Linked DNA regions of Homo sapiens: region 2 is linked to region 1. The links come from fine-mapping of genetic effects on gene expression. Tissue or cell type: thyroid. Region 1 holds a variant in brackets; the other region holds the start of a gene. All regions are shown on one strand. Distances are between the middles of the regions.

The links.
Region 2: PRKG1 starts here. The variant in region 1 is fine-mapped to the expression of PRKG1 in thyroid (GTEx, PIP 0.97).

Annotation. Positions count from the first base shown.
Region 1 is chr10:51,115,854-51,124,198 of GRCh38, forward strand. The region is part of intron 1 of PRKG1 (protein kinase cGMP-dependent 1); the gene reads left to right. Among named protein-coding and RNA genes, the nearest start is that of PRKG1, 46 kb to the left of the region's middle. The variant A/G (reference allele first, on the strand shown) is at 3,357.
Region 2 is chr10:51,070,428-51,078,772 of GRCh38, forward strand. It overlaps PRKG1 (protein kinase cGMP-dependent 1), which reads left to right and starts at 4,060. Exons shown (of 18, transcript NM_006258.4): 1 at 4,060-4,474. The coding sequence starts at 4,164.

The DNA.
Region 1 (8,345 bases):
ATGATAAAGAAGTAGTACCAAAATTCCTTTTTAAGAATTGTCATAGTGCAAACATAGAGAAGAAATCAGGGGCAAAGGGTAGCAATGGAAAGTCAAGACAATGTTGTTCTTGTAGAGGAGACCGAGTACATGTATAGGCTGGGCGAAGGAGAGAGCTTCACTGTAGGGAGGCAGTTCTGGTGTGGTGGTGGAAAAGTACTGGGCTTTCACTCAACAGATTTGGAGTTTTTTCTCAACTCTGCCAGTCGGTAACTAATTGAGAAAGGTGAGTAATTTGCTTAATTTACTTGAGGCTCAAATTAAATAACAAATGTGAGGTCAGTTTGTGAATGGTAAAATGCTGCATCAATAATGTGGCATTATCCACGGTAGACTGGCGGAACATATAAGCACTCTGCCCCTCTGAATTATTTCAACCATGCATTTCCTGCCTCTTGAAGAAGAGAAACAAAACAGAGGGCACTGAAATGATTTGCACCTCACTCAAAATGAGTAGAATGTAATTATAATCCCTTCGAAGAACTAGAACTCTTCAGTCCCTGAAGACACGGCTTATTGGGCTTCTGTATGAAATGAAGGACATGGACTAATCCTGGAAGGACATTCCAGTAAATTTGGGATGAACAGTATTCATGTATCATGGGGATTAAAGCCATTTGAAATCAACATGCAAGGAGGTGAATGTTAATATGATGCAAACAGAATACAGAAAAGCTGAAGTTGAGGAAGTGAACAGTAAAAGGTGTCTGCAGGAATTCTTACAGGAATTGAATTCTGAGCTAGATTTGGAGGAGGAAAGGCAGGAACTGGTGGGATGATGGTAGGAAGCATTTCCTCTGAAATCCCTGGAGGGGGCTGAGTTCAAGATGTAGTTAATAGACCAGTGGGAGATGATGGGAGAGAGGGTGGAAGGCTGGATCAAGATGGTAAGATCTGATACCATGAGCAATATTGAACAGCGGGGGAATTCCTGAGCAAGAAGATGGCATTGCTATCAGAGGAAGATTGTTCCACCCTTTGGCATCTCTGTGCAGGATGAGTAGAGGTGGGAGCCTGGAGAATCAGATAAGTGGCTGTTGAAGGCATGGGGTAACAGGGTTGTTGGAGGCTGTGGAATCATAAGAGGGAATGGGTAGATCTGAGAGATAATGGAGAAACGTACTTGAAATGTGACATTTTTAGTTAACCTGTACATGACCATTTGTTCTGCTCTCTCTTATTGTGGAGCCAATTTTGAGGAAGTAATATTTCTGTATTGTAATGAACATGGAAATGCTTCATGGGTATTCCCCAATTTCAGTTACCCTGTATCCTAATTATAGAGAACCTGGACTCTTAAACACAGCACAGCATGGTCTTTCACTCTGGTACAAAGCAATCATAGGTCTGCTTTTGCCATGGGTCCCATAATGCTTCTTTGTGCACAGTATGGTGAAATTCTCCTTATTGGGAAAGTCCATAATGGTGTTACATTCTTGTTATATTCTATCAACATTTTAACCAGTTATCTTGCTCCTCATGTGGTAGCACTTGTCAAGCTGTATTTTTTCACAGGCAATAATTGAGGTCTTGGCTGATGAAGCAAATGGCCTAATGAGTAATAATCACATATTTGGAATGTACACGATGAGCCAAGCATGTTGCTACGCACTTCATGGGCATTATTTATGGTGCTTACCACGGTTTGTTGAATGCTTACTATGTCCCTAGTACTGTGTGGGTACTGTGTGTGTTTGATATGGGTAATCTTATGTAATTTCCACAACAATTAGGAAGTGGATAGCATTCTTTCTTCCATTTCATAGATAAAGGAGACAAGACAGAGTTCTAATGGAGGCATTGCTTTACTACAGAAGAAACAATTTTTGATAGCTTTGTAAGAAAGCTATGCTCATATAACATACCTTATTGATTCCTTAAATAAAATACATTATGTAACAGCTCTCAACGGAGTAAAGATGGGATGTGGCTGAGCTTTTAAGTTGTTTTCTTAAACATGATTGCAGTTCTATGTTTAAAAATGAGTCAAGAACATCTGCTTCTTTCTAGGGAGATATTCCATGGCTTCTTAACAACTGCTCTAACTTTTGTGGCAGCTGTCTGAAAGTTAGCTGTCTCTTGAGGCAGTGATGTCTTTATCACTAGGGGGTTTTCACTAAAATCTCAGTGATGACTTGCAGATGTCATAGATGTTGGATGAGGGGAAGGGAAGTTGAATTACATGGCATTGGAGATCCTTCCTAACCCTGAGAGTCTTTGAGGTTCTAAGTTCCATTAAAACTATTTCAGGACACAGTTAAGAGCAGAGCAGCAATCTTTAGGTCAGTGTTTTATGGCATTTGGCCAAAGGCCATTTAAAAGTTGATGGAGCAAAGAGAAGTGGATATAATGGGATTTTGAAAAAAAATAAAAAATAAAACAAAAAATAACTTCCTGTGCAAAAGCAGATTACTTTTAAGGGTAAATTTTAGAAAAGGAATCCTCAGATCAATATAGTGCCATGCCATTTTAATTATAGAAAGTAAATTAATATCTGCTCTTTAAAAAAGACAGTTAAAATGGTTCTAAAAGTAATGTTTGAATTCAGTGAGTTTCTAAATTAGCTTAAATTCTTAAGAAACCATTAAAAATGATAATAACTCTGTTTATTATCATTACAGAAAGCTTTCGTATAGTACTTTTATCTGTGCCAAATACTGTACTAAATGTTTTCCATGAATTTTCTCGATAATTTCTACACTAACACCATGAGATAGGTATTCTTATTAGCATCAGTTTTTCGAATGAGTACTTCAAGTTTCAGGAAAGTAAAGAAACTTCCCTGAAGACAGTATCTCAATTAGAACACAGTTCTGATTCCTACGTCTTCCCTCTGCAACCTACTGTTGTTCTATTCGTCTCTGCAGAATATTCTATTTAATTTACAGTAAATGACTATAGCTGTTGTGCCTATTTATGGTTTAGCTTGCTAAGGAGTTAAAGAATTCTTGCTGGAACAAGCTAGGTTAATTGAAGGGAAAAGCAACAGCATATTGGTTCTGAATGTTAAGCTTCAAATTATTTTGGAACCTGGTCTCTTAGTAACTGATATGTTACTGTTACATTTTAGAAAAAATAAAAAGGAAATCATGAAATCCTAAGCCATATCTTGGACCTGAATATAGGTTGCTTTAGGCAATGAATAGTTGTCCTTAGAATAATTCTTCATTTCTTGCACTACCTCCAAAACGCAATAAATTTACTGTCTTAGTAGTTTGAAAATGTAGGCTTCCGAATGTTCACTTGCTAAATTCATATTATTTGTAACATATAGGCTATGGTGTCCCTATTCAGTTAGTATGGTTCAGTTGCACCAC[A/G]TTATGTCTTAGGTAAAGTAAACTAAATTAAATTTTCAGGGAGCAATGGAAAATAAAAGGAAATGTTCACAGTCTTTGAGTTATTGATCTTTGTGATTTTCACTGCCTTATACTTTTTCCTGAAAATATTAACACATTTTTATAAATCTTAATTATTTGCATAATTAGAGAAATTTTCCTGATTATCTAGAATACATTAAATTTTGAAGAGAAATCTGGAATATCAAAAATACACATTTTAGACTCATGGTACAGATGTGTACAGTTAAATATGCTTCTCAAGAAAAAAGAATCATGCCTTAATCTAGGAAAGATCATATTTTGATAGAGAAATTTTTGGCAAAACAAAAATATATAAAACCACTTTCTACTCTAATTTAATGACCCTGTTCATTTCCTGTTTTGATTTTGGACATAATTCCAACACTAACTCTCTAGAGACTGTTAAAATTCATGGTCTAAAAATATAATGACAATTTTAACTTTACCACAAGACAAATCTTTCCATTTTACAGTATGATCATGTTGATATACTTTAAAATAAAATGACACTTAGAATTAAGTTCAGAGGTTTTGGAATTTTAAAATAAGACTTTGGATTCGTATAAAAAATAATTAATTTTTTAGTCAATGTTCTAGAAAAATTATTATTTATGCTTATCAATGGAGAAGTAAGTCTACTTGAAAACAGAAAACTAATCTCTCCTTAAGTGAGAAGAAACAGTGATCATGAGCTTGGACATGAAAGTTTACAAATGATCACAGGTCCTAAGCTTCAGTGGGTTCTCCATATATCAATGCCAATAAGGCCTTACTTTCAAATTTCCCTTTTGCATTTATAATGTTTGTAAGGCTTATTGAGAATTTTTTTTTAACTTTTAAGAAAAAGTTTGGAGCATTTTATTATTTTTTGAAAGATAGTTGTGGAACAGGGTGGAGGAACTTGCTGTCTAGAATTTAGAAGCTTAGTAAAATCCCATTATAAATAACAAAGTGTGCTCACTGCTTCTAAGATTACAATTTTAATGGAGAAAATTACCTTAAGCTAAATAATGGTTAACTATATGAATATTAGGGAGGGCAAAGTTGTTGAGGTTGTTGATTCCGATTTTTCTGGTATTGCCCAAATCACAACAAACTACAAGGCCCCCTGTGAAGAGGAAAAAGGTGTACAAAGGGATATTTAAGGTCTTGAAGTCAATCTTCACATATATCACTATTTTTTTAGGCCTAGTATACAATTTTCTCTCTCTGTCTTTCCTTCACAACATTTTCAAATTTCTTTCCTTCTACATTTTCTGGCCCCTGTTTTTGAACAAAGCTGAAAAGTTCAGCTCTGTCAAATTCAAGGAATTTCTCAAGCACATGTAGAGGAGTTTGCAATGACCATCCAGAAATGACATCCTAGGTTTTAAGTTTCTATAATGGACTTGGTATACTTGACTTAGTTAAGTAATAGACCAAGTGGAATCTTCATTAAACAGCTATCGTTCTTTTCTGTTAGCATATACACTACACATGTATTAAGTGTCTCTTAGTCATTTTGCCAATTTAATTTAATAAAGCAAAGAGACATTGTATTAATTTCCTATTGTTGCTGTAACAATACCACTAACTTAGTGACTTAAGTGATATTGTTACAGCAACGGTAGGAATAAAAATTCACACATTTTTATTGTATAGTCTTGTAGGTTAGAAGTCTAATGAGGGTCTCACTAGGCTACAATTAAGATGTCAGTGGGGCTGTTGTTCCTTTTTGGAAGCTCTAGCAAAGAATCTGTTCCTTGTCTTTTGCATCTTTTAGAAACTTCCCACATTCTCAGCTCTTGGCCCCATCCCATCTTCAAAGCCAGCAATGCAAGTCTAGGTCCAGTCTTTCTCATATTGCATTACTGAGATCATCTCTCCTGTCTCCCTCACTTACAAGTATCGTGGTGATTAATTGAACCCACTTGGATAACCCAGAGCAATCTTCCGAGCTCAATGTTCATACTCTTCATTACATCTGTAGGCCCCTTTTTCCATATAAGGTAATATATATCCAAATTCTGAGAATCCGAAAGTGGACATCTTTGAGGAGCCACTATTTGCTTTCTGCAGGCATGCAGAGTTTTTGTTTAATAGTAGAAACATGTCTTTGATGGAGGAAATTATTATATTATTTTTTGATACATTTAAGCATAATTTTTGGCTCATGAGTTTTTCTCTCTCTGCATTCTACATTGTTCGGGACACATTCAAACTATCACTAATTAAATAAATACAGGAGGGAAGAACTTCATTACAAATAATAATAGATAACATTCATGAAGTACTGCACTCAGAGATGAGAACTTTTTATGTCATATCTCACTGAATCCTCATAACAACTCTCTGCAGAAGGTACTTTTCCCTAATTTTTATAAATAATTGAAGATTTAAAATTTTAAAGATTTTTTCCAAGGCCACCCAGCTAGTAAGTGACAACCGTAAGAACACAGATAATGTGGCACCAAGATTGGTGTCAAAACTCCTTGAGAATATGCATATCTATTTGAAAATGTCATAATCACCCATCAGTACATCATTCACAATGGGCACCCACTAACTGTTCGTTGGATTCGTGAATGGTCTTGCACAGTAATATATTTCATTAATTTTCTGCATGGTACAGTTAACAAGTGAGATAAATATGGTCCTAATGGCATAGTATTAAGGAACACTGCTACACTTATTGCATTTAATGTTCTCTGTTGTGGTGATTGTTGGCACTTACCTCAAGAGCAGGCCCTTGTCATTGCCAGCCCTCTGCTTCTTGTATTGTACGTACATCTGTCGTACCTTCTGCTGTACCCCTAGCATCATGTCGCTGCTAAACATTTTGGCAGAAACCTTAGGAACATCTGTTGCCTTAGTCCAGGAACAAACTAGCAGCTCTCTATTAAATGAGGATGGCATTTGGCAGTTCAGGCTTTAGCCTTCTTCGGAAGTCCCTTTGGTCTAAAGCAATGGAACTAAATCCTTAGAGCTCTACCATCCCACATGTGTAGCAAAGGGCAAAACCCATATGAAAGGCATATGGTGGAACAAATCACAATAATGCATCATGCCCTTCTCCCAAACAGTAGTGAGACATCCGTCTTACTGGGATGCCACATGGACACAATATCAACACAGCACCAAGAGGCTTTTGTTCAAACACCATTTCTAGTCCTAACTTTTCCAGATAATGGCTAAGTGATGTTAGCCCTGTGTCTTAACCTCTGTGGGAAGAATAAAAACCTAACCCATCTGGGTTGCCTCTTGTGGGTATATACGTGTGATTAAGATTTGGTCTCTGATTACTAAGGAAACTGTAATTTCCCAAGGAAAAACTCATATATAAAAACCCAATTCATGTAAATCAAAATCACAAACTATCAATAGTTATTGCTAGACATATCCTTCTTGGTTTTCTTCTAAGAAAGAAAAAAGCAGCCAGTGACATCCAGCAACTGATCTGATGCTCATAGCTGGAACTCAGGTTATCACAAACTGATTTGACACTGGCAACTACGCCATGTTGTTCTCCCGTTGAGCATCAATAATGTCATAAACCACCTACTTCAGATCGTGTCACTGTGCATACTACAAAATAGACCAGATCTGTCTCTCTCACTAAAACCAGGTATCTTCCTGTCTCAGTAAATGCTCCCTTACTAGGTTCAATTTTAGGCTTCCTATAGCCTGCCCTATCTATACGTTTTATTGAGATATCTAATCATAACATTTCCCCTGCTTTCTGACAACACACAATGTAGGACAAACTTCTGCTTCCTTAGAACCTTCCTCAAAATTATTCAACAAAAGCCCCAATTCTATAATAGGTTCTTCTGACACTGTTGTACTGAGCTACCTCACAGGTGGTTCCCTGTGGTATGCATTCTCCCTCTGCAATGAATAATACACCAAACTTGTTCACTTACATTTTTACCTGATGGGCATTGACACTTCCAAAAACTAGTTCTATCAATGACTGAAGTCAGATGATTGCATAAAAATCCTAACATTTTACAACAGTCTTAATTAACCTCGTTCTTTAAAAATAAATTTTATTACTGTTATCCATATATATGGTTTAAAAAATCAGCCCAAAAAAGGCTTATAATGAAGAACAGAAACTTCTTGCATGCTCCGTATTAGGCCTTTCTTGCGTTGCTATAAATAAATACCTGAGCCCGGGCCTGGTGGCTCACGCCTGTAATCCCAGCACTTTGAGAGGCCGAGGCAAATAGATCACCTGAGGTCAGGAGTTCGAAACCAGCCTGGCCAACATGGTGAAACACCATCTCTACTAAAAATACAAAAATTAGCCAGGCGTGATGGTGGGTTCCTGTAATCCCAGCTACTCGGGTGGCTGAGGCAGGAGAATCACTTCCACCCGGGAGGTGGAGGTTGCGGTGAGCTGAGATCATGCCATGTGCCACTGCACTCTATCCTGGGCAACAGATCGAGACTCCATCTCAAAAAAAAAAAAAAAATTACTGGAGGCTCTGAGACTGGGTAATTTATAGAGAAAAGAAGTTTAAGTGGCCAAGGTTCTGCAGGCTGTACAGAAAACATGGTGGCATATGCTTCTGGGGAGGCCTCAGGAAGCTTACAATCATAGCAGAAGGTGAAGTGGAGGCAGGCACTTCACGTGGTGAAAGCAGGCGCGAGAGAGTGAAGGGAGGGAGGTGTCATGTACTTTTAACGGGCCAGACCTCAGAAAAAATCACTCGCTATTGTGAGGACAGCACCAAGAGAATGGTGCTACAGCATTCATGAGAAATCCACCTCCATGATCCAATCACCTCCTTTCGGGCCCCACCTCCAATACTGGAGATTAGAATTCAACATGAGATTGGATGGGGACAGAGATCCAAACACTATCATGCTCTTTTCATCCGCATTCCTCAGAGAAGATATGATCTGGGGGTCAATCTACTTTTGATCAGAACCTGATCAAGCTACTATCCTTAATTCTTAATT
Region 2 (8,345 bases), 45 kb before region 1:
GCCAGAGGAAGCTTCTGTCTCCTGAAAGGCTCAGCTATATATTTGTTTGTTTATTTTTTCCCATTCAAGATATACACATGAAATGACAGAAGAAAATTTCAAAACTTAAGATTCTTCCAGGAAATACAGTGTCAGTGGAATGGATAAGTGGATAAAATTAGCACAGTTCTTTTGGGCTAATTATGTTTTTAGTGAAGGATGACAAATTCTACAGATTTATTTTTGAATAGCCAGTATTATAATAAAGCTACTTTATTGGAATAGCTCATTAAATGATTCTGAGAATCCATTAAGGAAGGCATGTCAGTTTTTATTCTCAATTATGAGGATTGGGTGCAAGACTAAAGAGCATGTTGGAGTTCAACAGGCCACAGTTTGGTCTGGCTACCAGTAGAACTTTGCTTCTATTAAAGTTATGAAAAAGGAAGACTGCTGAAAAACAGGTTGTGAGTTGTTTCTGGAATTCTAGAGTATGAAGTCAGTTCCTTCAAAATTGCATTGTTCTAACTGTTAGCATCTAATGTCAAAGCTTCATCTCAGATAGGCAGTGGGGCAGGGCTCAGATCAAGCCATTCTCCTCTACTCTATCCCTGAAGGAATCTGAGGTAGACACTTCCTAATTAGCAGAAAGTAGACTTGTGCCTGATCTTTGATCTTGTAATTTAGCCAATTAAGTTTACTACATGACACTTAGTAAAGATAATTTGTCTGTTAAGACGTAATTGCAGGACTTTGATTTTTCACATAGGGTTTATTTCCAGCATTTACTAAGTACAACGCAGAAGATGTTTAAGAAAATATTGGAAACACTCAAAAGGTTGAGATGGAAACCTGGTCGCTCAAGATCTAAACAGCTGGTCAAAAGCATCATTGAAAAACATACTTAAAATATTTATTTTTACTTTAAAAATGAAAGAGAAAAGGCTAGAATCCTGGATTTTGCATATGAAATTATAAAGCATTTAAGGGGAAGTCAATTTAAAAAAATAACACAGCCTGAGATAACTAAATATATTCTATTCCTTGAACACCTTTTAAAGTCAATTGTAAAAGTCATGTCTTTTCAGCTTTTTACTCTATTTGTGTTTGTTATAACAGATTCCTGACTCTCAATATCAGATTCATCCTGGAACAGATTTTATATCATGAGATGTAAATTTAAAATGAAAATGTAATGTGTATACATCCTATAGTTGCATTTAGATATGCCAGCTTAAATACTGATAAGTATTTACATAATTTAGTGTAAAAAAACTCACTTTTTTCCAAAATGCCTAAATATTTTTGGTTTTTTTATTTTTGGGGAAAGTGTTTTAGTTTTTATTTTCCTTTGTACATGTAGACAGACTTTCTACAAATGAGGAAGAACCTTCTCTCTTTGTGCTGCTCAAAAACATTAAGTAACCCCATTTAAACCCTAAATAAACTCTAAAACATCAATGAAAAACGTATTTAAAATATTTGTTTTCACTTTAAAAATGAACGAGATGGCTGGGCACAGTGGCTAATGCCTATAATCCCAGCATTTTTGGAGGCCAAGGCGGGCAGATCACGAGATCAAGAGATCGAGAACATCCTGGCCAACATGGTGAACCCCGTCTCTACTAAAAATACAAAAACTAGCCGGCGTGGTGGCGGGTGCCTGTAGTCCCAGCTACTCCGGAGGCTGAGGCAGGAGAATCACTTGAATCCAGGAGGCGGAGGTTGCAGGGAGCTGAGATTGCGCCACTGCACTTCAGCCTGGGTGACCAGAGCAAAACTCCGTCTCAAAAACAAACACACAAACAAACAAAAAAAAAACAAAGAGAAAATCCTGGAATTCTGAACCCAGCTTAGCAGTTGTCTAATTATGTCCTCTATACATTGTATCTGGTATATTTTTAGACATAAACTCATGGCTTCATGAACCCCAATAATAGATCTATAGGAAAAAGTCATTTTGTATTCAACATTTTCCCATGGAAATAAAGAATTCCCACAGGTTAAATAAGAATTTGGCCTTTTGCCCAGAAGAAGGAAATTTTCATGGAAGCTTTTTTAGAATACAGTGAGTTATACAAAGTCACAGTACTTCTGCTTGGTTTACTTTTAATTAAAACAACAGTAATTCAGAGCTATTATTATTTTCAATATTTGTAAGTTGCTCATTTCTTCATTGCAAAAGAAAATGTTTTGAGAATGATCCATTTTATATATCACATTTAGAAATAAATGCACTTCTGAAAGTCTGTGTTGGAAAGCAGAAAAATGAAGTGTCTTGTGTAATCTGCATTAAGAGAATTACTAGATCATAATCTACATAAAAGAATATTTAGGACTATATATTTTGTCATTTAGTCCTCTAATTAAAAACAAGGACACTTTAAATGAACAAGCTTGTTAAGATACCTTGACCTCCCTCCCTCCTTTCCTCCCTTCCTCTGTCTCTAGCTTAAATACAAAAAGTTGTGTATTCAAAAGCAACAGTGTGCAAGTTATTTTGATACTATTCTTTGCTAAGTTTAGAATTGCATTGCAATTCAATTTTATTTTCTGTCCACTTTGTTTTAGTGTTAAGGAATAACCAAATAGAGCATTGAGGATTATAATATTGAGTGCCCAAGAATAGTAATCAAAAATCTGCCAATAAAGATGCTATAAAATTGGATGAGTTCGTAATGTCTTAAGCAAATATTAGGGATTTAGGTACGTATTAGGCAGATATTTGGGGATTCTAAACATGTGTTCCCATGATGGGAGTGTAACACTTGGATAGAAAGGAAGTTACCTAATTGTGATCATTTTGGGGAATATTGAGTGGGCAGGGATGAGGGTGGGAGTGGGTAGAGGTGGGGGTGACTGCAGTATAGTGTACAATTCACTGCAGCCTGCGTGGTCTCCCTCGCTCCTTCACGATTTTCCCTCTTCTTCAAAGTTTGTGTCAGGATGTCTTCCTGGCCATTCAAGTGGAAAGATACATTCCTAACAGCTTGGTTGTGAGGAAAGTAATATTTTTAAAGGTATGATTCAGTTTCAAGATGAAATTTTTGGAGCTCGGGAATGATTTTTAACCCCCACCCTCTCCCCGCCAAATTCAGCAAATGGAAGAAGCAAGGCCCATCCGAGAACTATTCCCAGGCACCAGCTCAAGGCGGAGGGCTCATGGGGAAGCTGAGTGACCTGCTAGGGCCCAAATCCGTTTTTGGCCTTTGCCCTAAAACAGTTCCCCGATGAGAGTTTGGAAGGGGCAGAAAGGAAAGTAACTATCTGGAGCAGGCGAAGAGTAGCAACGCCTCGGGTGCTAAAATCGGAAACCCCACCCCCTACCCCACAACCCTTTCCCAAAGGTAGTAGGCTGAAAGGGGGAATTCCTCGCGGGCGCCGACTCGCTCGCATCTCCTGAGAGGCAAGTTTCTTCGCAAGCGTTAGCCACCTGTGTGAGGCGCTCTGGGTGGGAAAGGTGGCGTGGGAGAAGCGACAGCTCGGCCACACCGCTCGGGAGCTTTCCTTAGTGAGGCCGGCCGTCAAAATACCTCCAGAACTCAGAGCTTTGATGATGCAGAGTCCCCTATGCCTCGTACGTCGCTAGGATCGTAGCTCAACATTCTCCAGGCTGGTCTGCTCTGGAGTCAGCTGAGGCCTCCCGAGTTTGCCCGGGGTCCTCCCTGTCCCCTCCCTCCCACCTCCCCACCCCCGAAGTAGCGCTCCCGCCTCGCTCCACCCGCACACCCCCGGCGCGCCTCGGAGGCTTATCAGGCTCCCCGCACGCCCCGCAAGCTTCCTTGGGCGCCCGGCGCGAGGGACTCTGAGAGCCCAGCCGCTGCCTCGGAGCCCCCATTCACGTCCCCTCCTCCCGCTCCCCCGCCACCGCGCCTCCGACTCTTCTCCCCCGCGCCGCGGCGCCCACCGCGTCTCAGGTTTAATCCCGGGTTGGACCTGCTGGTTTGCTCTCCCCGCTCTGAGCCTCACAGCCAGCCCAGAGAAGTGGAATCTGCACTGAAACTCTGGGTGGCTGGAGCCGGCGGACTGGGCATGCTCAGAAGCCAGGGCTGGCTTTGGTCTCAAGTAGGAAGCTTTGGCACTCGGGAGGCAGCGGCGACTTTGGGGAAAGTTGATCGGAGAGGGGAGGAAGCCTCAAGACGCGGAGCAGCGGCAGGAAGGAGCCCCCGGCAGCCCGGAGGAGCATGGGCACCTTGCGGGATTTACAGTACGCGCTCCAGGAGAAGATCGAGGAGCTGAGGCAGCGGGATGCTCTCATCGACGAGCTGGAGCTGGAGTTGGATCAGAAGGACGAACTGATCCAGAAGCTGCAGAACGAGCTGGACAAGTACCGCTCGGTGATCCGACCAGCCACCCAGCAGGCGCAGAAGCAGAGCGCGAGCACCTTGCAGGGCGAGCCGCGCACCAAGCGGCAGGCGATCTCCGCCGAGCCCACCGCCTTCGACATCCAGGATCTCAGCCATGTGACCCTGCCCTTCTACCCCAAGAGCCCACAGTAAGCAGGGGTGACGCGCCGGGTCCATGTGGCGCCCTGGCGATGGGGAGCTGCGGGTCTCTGTATTGTCTGTCGGCCCCCGCCCCTCCCGCTTGCCATGTCTGTCCTCATCCTCAGAAATGTTTCATTTTAACGGGCACTTCTTGCGGGGCTGTGCACGTTTCTCAGAGCCAGACTCACTGCACATACGTTGCCTTCGTGTCTTTGTCAGATGTCAAGGTATTATTTTTAAATATACATATACATTCGTATAAGCCACCTAGTGTACGTAGAGTTTGAACACGTCCCAGGTGTGTGTCCGACCGTGTGTGTGAGTGTGAGAGAAGAAATAAAAAGCCCCCGTCTCCCAAAAGCCCTGGCAAACCAGCCCAGCTGGAAAATCCTAAATGCAGGCTCATCAGACTTGAAATGAAATGCGTCTGATCACCCATACTTTCTATGCTTTTGTGGCTCTCCCGGATTTCTCTACCTGCTGGCGCTTCACGCTGGTACCCTTCAAACCTGACGTTCTTGTCATCATCAAAGTGTGAAACATAAGCAAATAGGCATAGAAAAAGGAAGAATTTTTGATTTCCTGAATTGGATGACATTTACAATCCATAAATGGAAGACTAGTCTGTTGATTTTGAAGAAATATTTTTTCATAACATATGAGGGAGAAGATTGCTTATTTTACTTAAGAAACGTGCATAATGTTACTAATGGAGCATCTCCATCTCCCAAGAGGTGGTTGCTTGTTTCCAGGGTCAGATACAGATAAGCACACTTATCTTATTTAAAACGTGGACCCATTGTTTGCCTTACTCTTGGCTTCTAATGCAACCACTCTGGCATTGTTCTAGCCTTTTAGGGAACTGTGCAATTCTGATGTTAGTGGGCTTCATAACTTGGATGGGAAAAATTTAATGAAACTTGTTATACAACACTCAACTCAGAGTTCATATGGAGAGTAAAGCGACAGGAACATGAGGTTAACAGAATGTGGGAGAGCACCCAAAAGAACGGCATTTTAAATTAATAGATAATAACGTAATTGATAAAACCAAGGATATTGCTGCTTACTCTACTACTAACGAAATCACATTGGCTGGATGGCACGTGTTACGTAATAATGCAAGGTCCATCGAAACCCTTCACTTCATAAATACAACAAGTTAATATAAGGAGAAAGTAAATATTTGATTATCTCTATTTGTATTTATTGGATGTTTTTTGGGGAGAATCACAGCATGTACCAATTACTACTTTTGAAAACTTAGAGTTATACCTATACATGTTGATTCCCATGGAACATTTGCTGTTCATGCAGGCTTAGTTTAGGGAGGAGTTTGTATTCTGCGAGGGAGTTGGAAAGAGACAATAAGGATAAACATTTCTGAGATTCTGACCTTACCAAATTGCCCTAATAGTTCAGCAGACTTAGATCTGCCTTAGAAACCTGAGTGATCTGAATAAACTTCAACTTTCTCTGGTAAATTAATTTGCAATCCTGACATGCCTGACTGTTTTAGCTAACGAGGTACATGACCATCTCTCCTGGGCCAAGTTTTGCATAATGAAAAAATAACTCAAAGACAGCTCTCTGCATCTTTAAACATTTCATAGGATCTCATTTTTGTATCCGCAGGACTTTTGAGTGACACAGAGCAAACTCTGCTTTTACAAAAAGACCACTTTAATAGGTTTCATAGTGAAGCATGTTGAAGCCAGCTGATAACTCCAGTTACACATTCCATCAGAGATTTACAAGATTCTAGGCAGTAGGGAATGAGCTATACAATGTGATAAGTTTAAAAGCCTCTTTGTACATGACTTGTAGAATATCTAGATTGAAAAACAAACAAACGAAAAAGGTCCAGAGTGGAAAATAAAGCTGGTGTGGCAAATAATTTACAGCATCCCATTATAATAACATTTTATCTATCATTATAATAACATTTTATCTATCAAACAACACTGTGTGTCCTGATACTGATTTCTTACTAATAACTTGTATTTTAAAGGACTCAGCTCTTAAGGTATTGCCATGATGCTTTGGGTGACTCTGAAGTATTTTATTGAGGAAAATGATAGAATGCCTTCCAAGCTTAAATAATTTTGGAAAAACATCTGTTCTTTTTTCACACTTACATAAAGAAAACTAGAAAAAAATTGGCTTGAGTAGTAGAAAGTGTACCTTTCTTAGGGAAAAAAGAAGTACATTGTATGCAAAATGAATAAATCTTATGTTGTTTGAATGGTTGTACAAGGTAGCTCCACAAAGAGTTAAGAAAACCTGCCAAACCAAAGAAGACTTGTTTGCCTTTCAATGTATTTCACTATGAATAATTTGATTACACGGACTTACTGGCAACAAGTGTTTGTGTCTTTGTATTTCATCTTTACTACATCTTAAATGTAGCCATCTTTCTTAAACATACATATAGATTATTGTGAGTTTCCAGTTAAAATGAAACTATCTAAATAGACACATTAATTTCCAGTTTACGTTCATGCTAGTTTTTGATTCTCTTTTTTTTAGATGTAGGTAACTGCCCCGCTAATGTTCTGTTCATTTATCTGATATATGCAAATATATCTGTTTAGTTTTTACTTACTAAGGTTGCCTTCTGAGGATTATAATTTTTTTTAGTTCTGGTTTCTTGGTAAATTTGGTCATTTAAAAATAGTATAAAATGTAAATTAACTTAATAACTTGAATCATTTTAACATTTTTGGCTTGGAATTTTTCCTTTAATGTGGGAATTGGAGGGAAGGTTCTGTCAGATTCCAGCACTGAGCCAGGACACTCCTGCTATAACTATGAGGTAGGAGGAGGGTTTTTATTGGTCTCTTTCACAATCTGTATAGATACAATACTTATGTGAAGGAAAGAACTGATGTAGCAAATTGGAATCTGTATTCCACTGCTACCAAATAACTCCTTGAGAATGTAAAACTACTAAACTATATTTGGAAATAAACTGAGCAAATAAACCCTTAAAATGAAAAACAAAACCTAAGCATTCATTATGTGAGATCAGATAGCCTGTTGATTGCCTATATAGAATAGTTCTTATGGACTTAAGTAATTTTATTTCATGAAGTTTCATTCCTGAAATTGATTCTATATCATGTTAGAACATTCAGTCTCTGAAATTTTGATCTAAACCCCTTATCTTTTGAAAATATTCCCAAATCTTTTCCATTTTCATGTCACAGGGTTTCAGTCATTTCAGTTGGATTATATAGACTTGAGTTCCTAAAAGTGGTTAGTGTCTTTGTATTTTTGTAAGCTGTTGCTTTCACTCCATGTTCTATTTTGTTTCCTTTCTTTTTCCTTTGTTGTTGTTGTTGAGACAGAGTCTCACTCTGTCACCCAGGATGGAGTGCAGTGGCACGATCTTGGCTCACTGTAACCTCCGCCTCCAGGGTTCAAGCAACTCTCCCATCGCAGCCTCCTGAGTGGCTGGGATTACAGGCACGTGCCACCAATGCCTGGCTATTTTTTTTTTTTTTTTTTTTTTTTAGTAGAGATGGGGTTTCGCCATTTTGGCCAGGCTGATCTTGAACTCCTGAACTCAGGTTATCAGCCCACCTGGGCCTCCAAAAGTGCTGAGATTACAGATGTGAGCCACCACACCTGGCCCCTGTTTCACTTTTTCATTGCGAAGTACTTTGGAGGAGTTGAGGATAAAAATATTTATTTATATTTATTTATTTATTTATTTATTTATTTATTTATTTATTTATTGAGACGGAGTCTCGCTCTATCGCCCAGGCTGGAGTGCAGTGGTGCCATCTCAGCTCACTGCAAGCTCTGCCTCCCGGGTTCACACCATTCTCTTGCCTCAGCCTCCTGAGTAGCTGGGACTACAGGCGCCAGCCACCA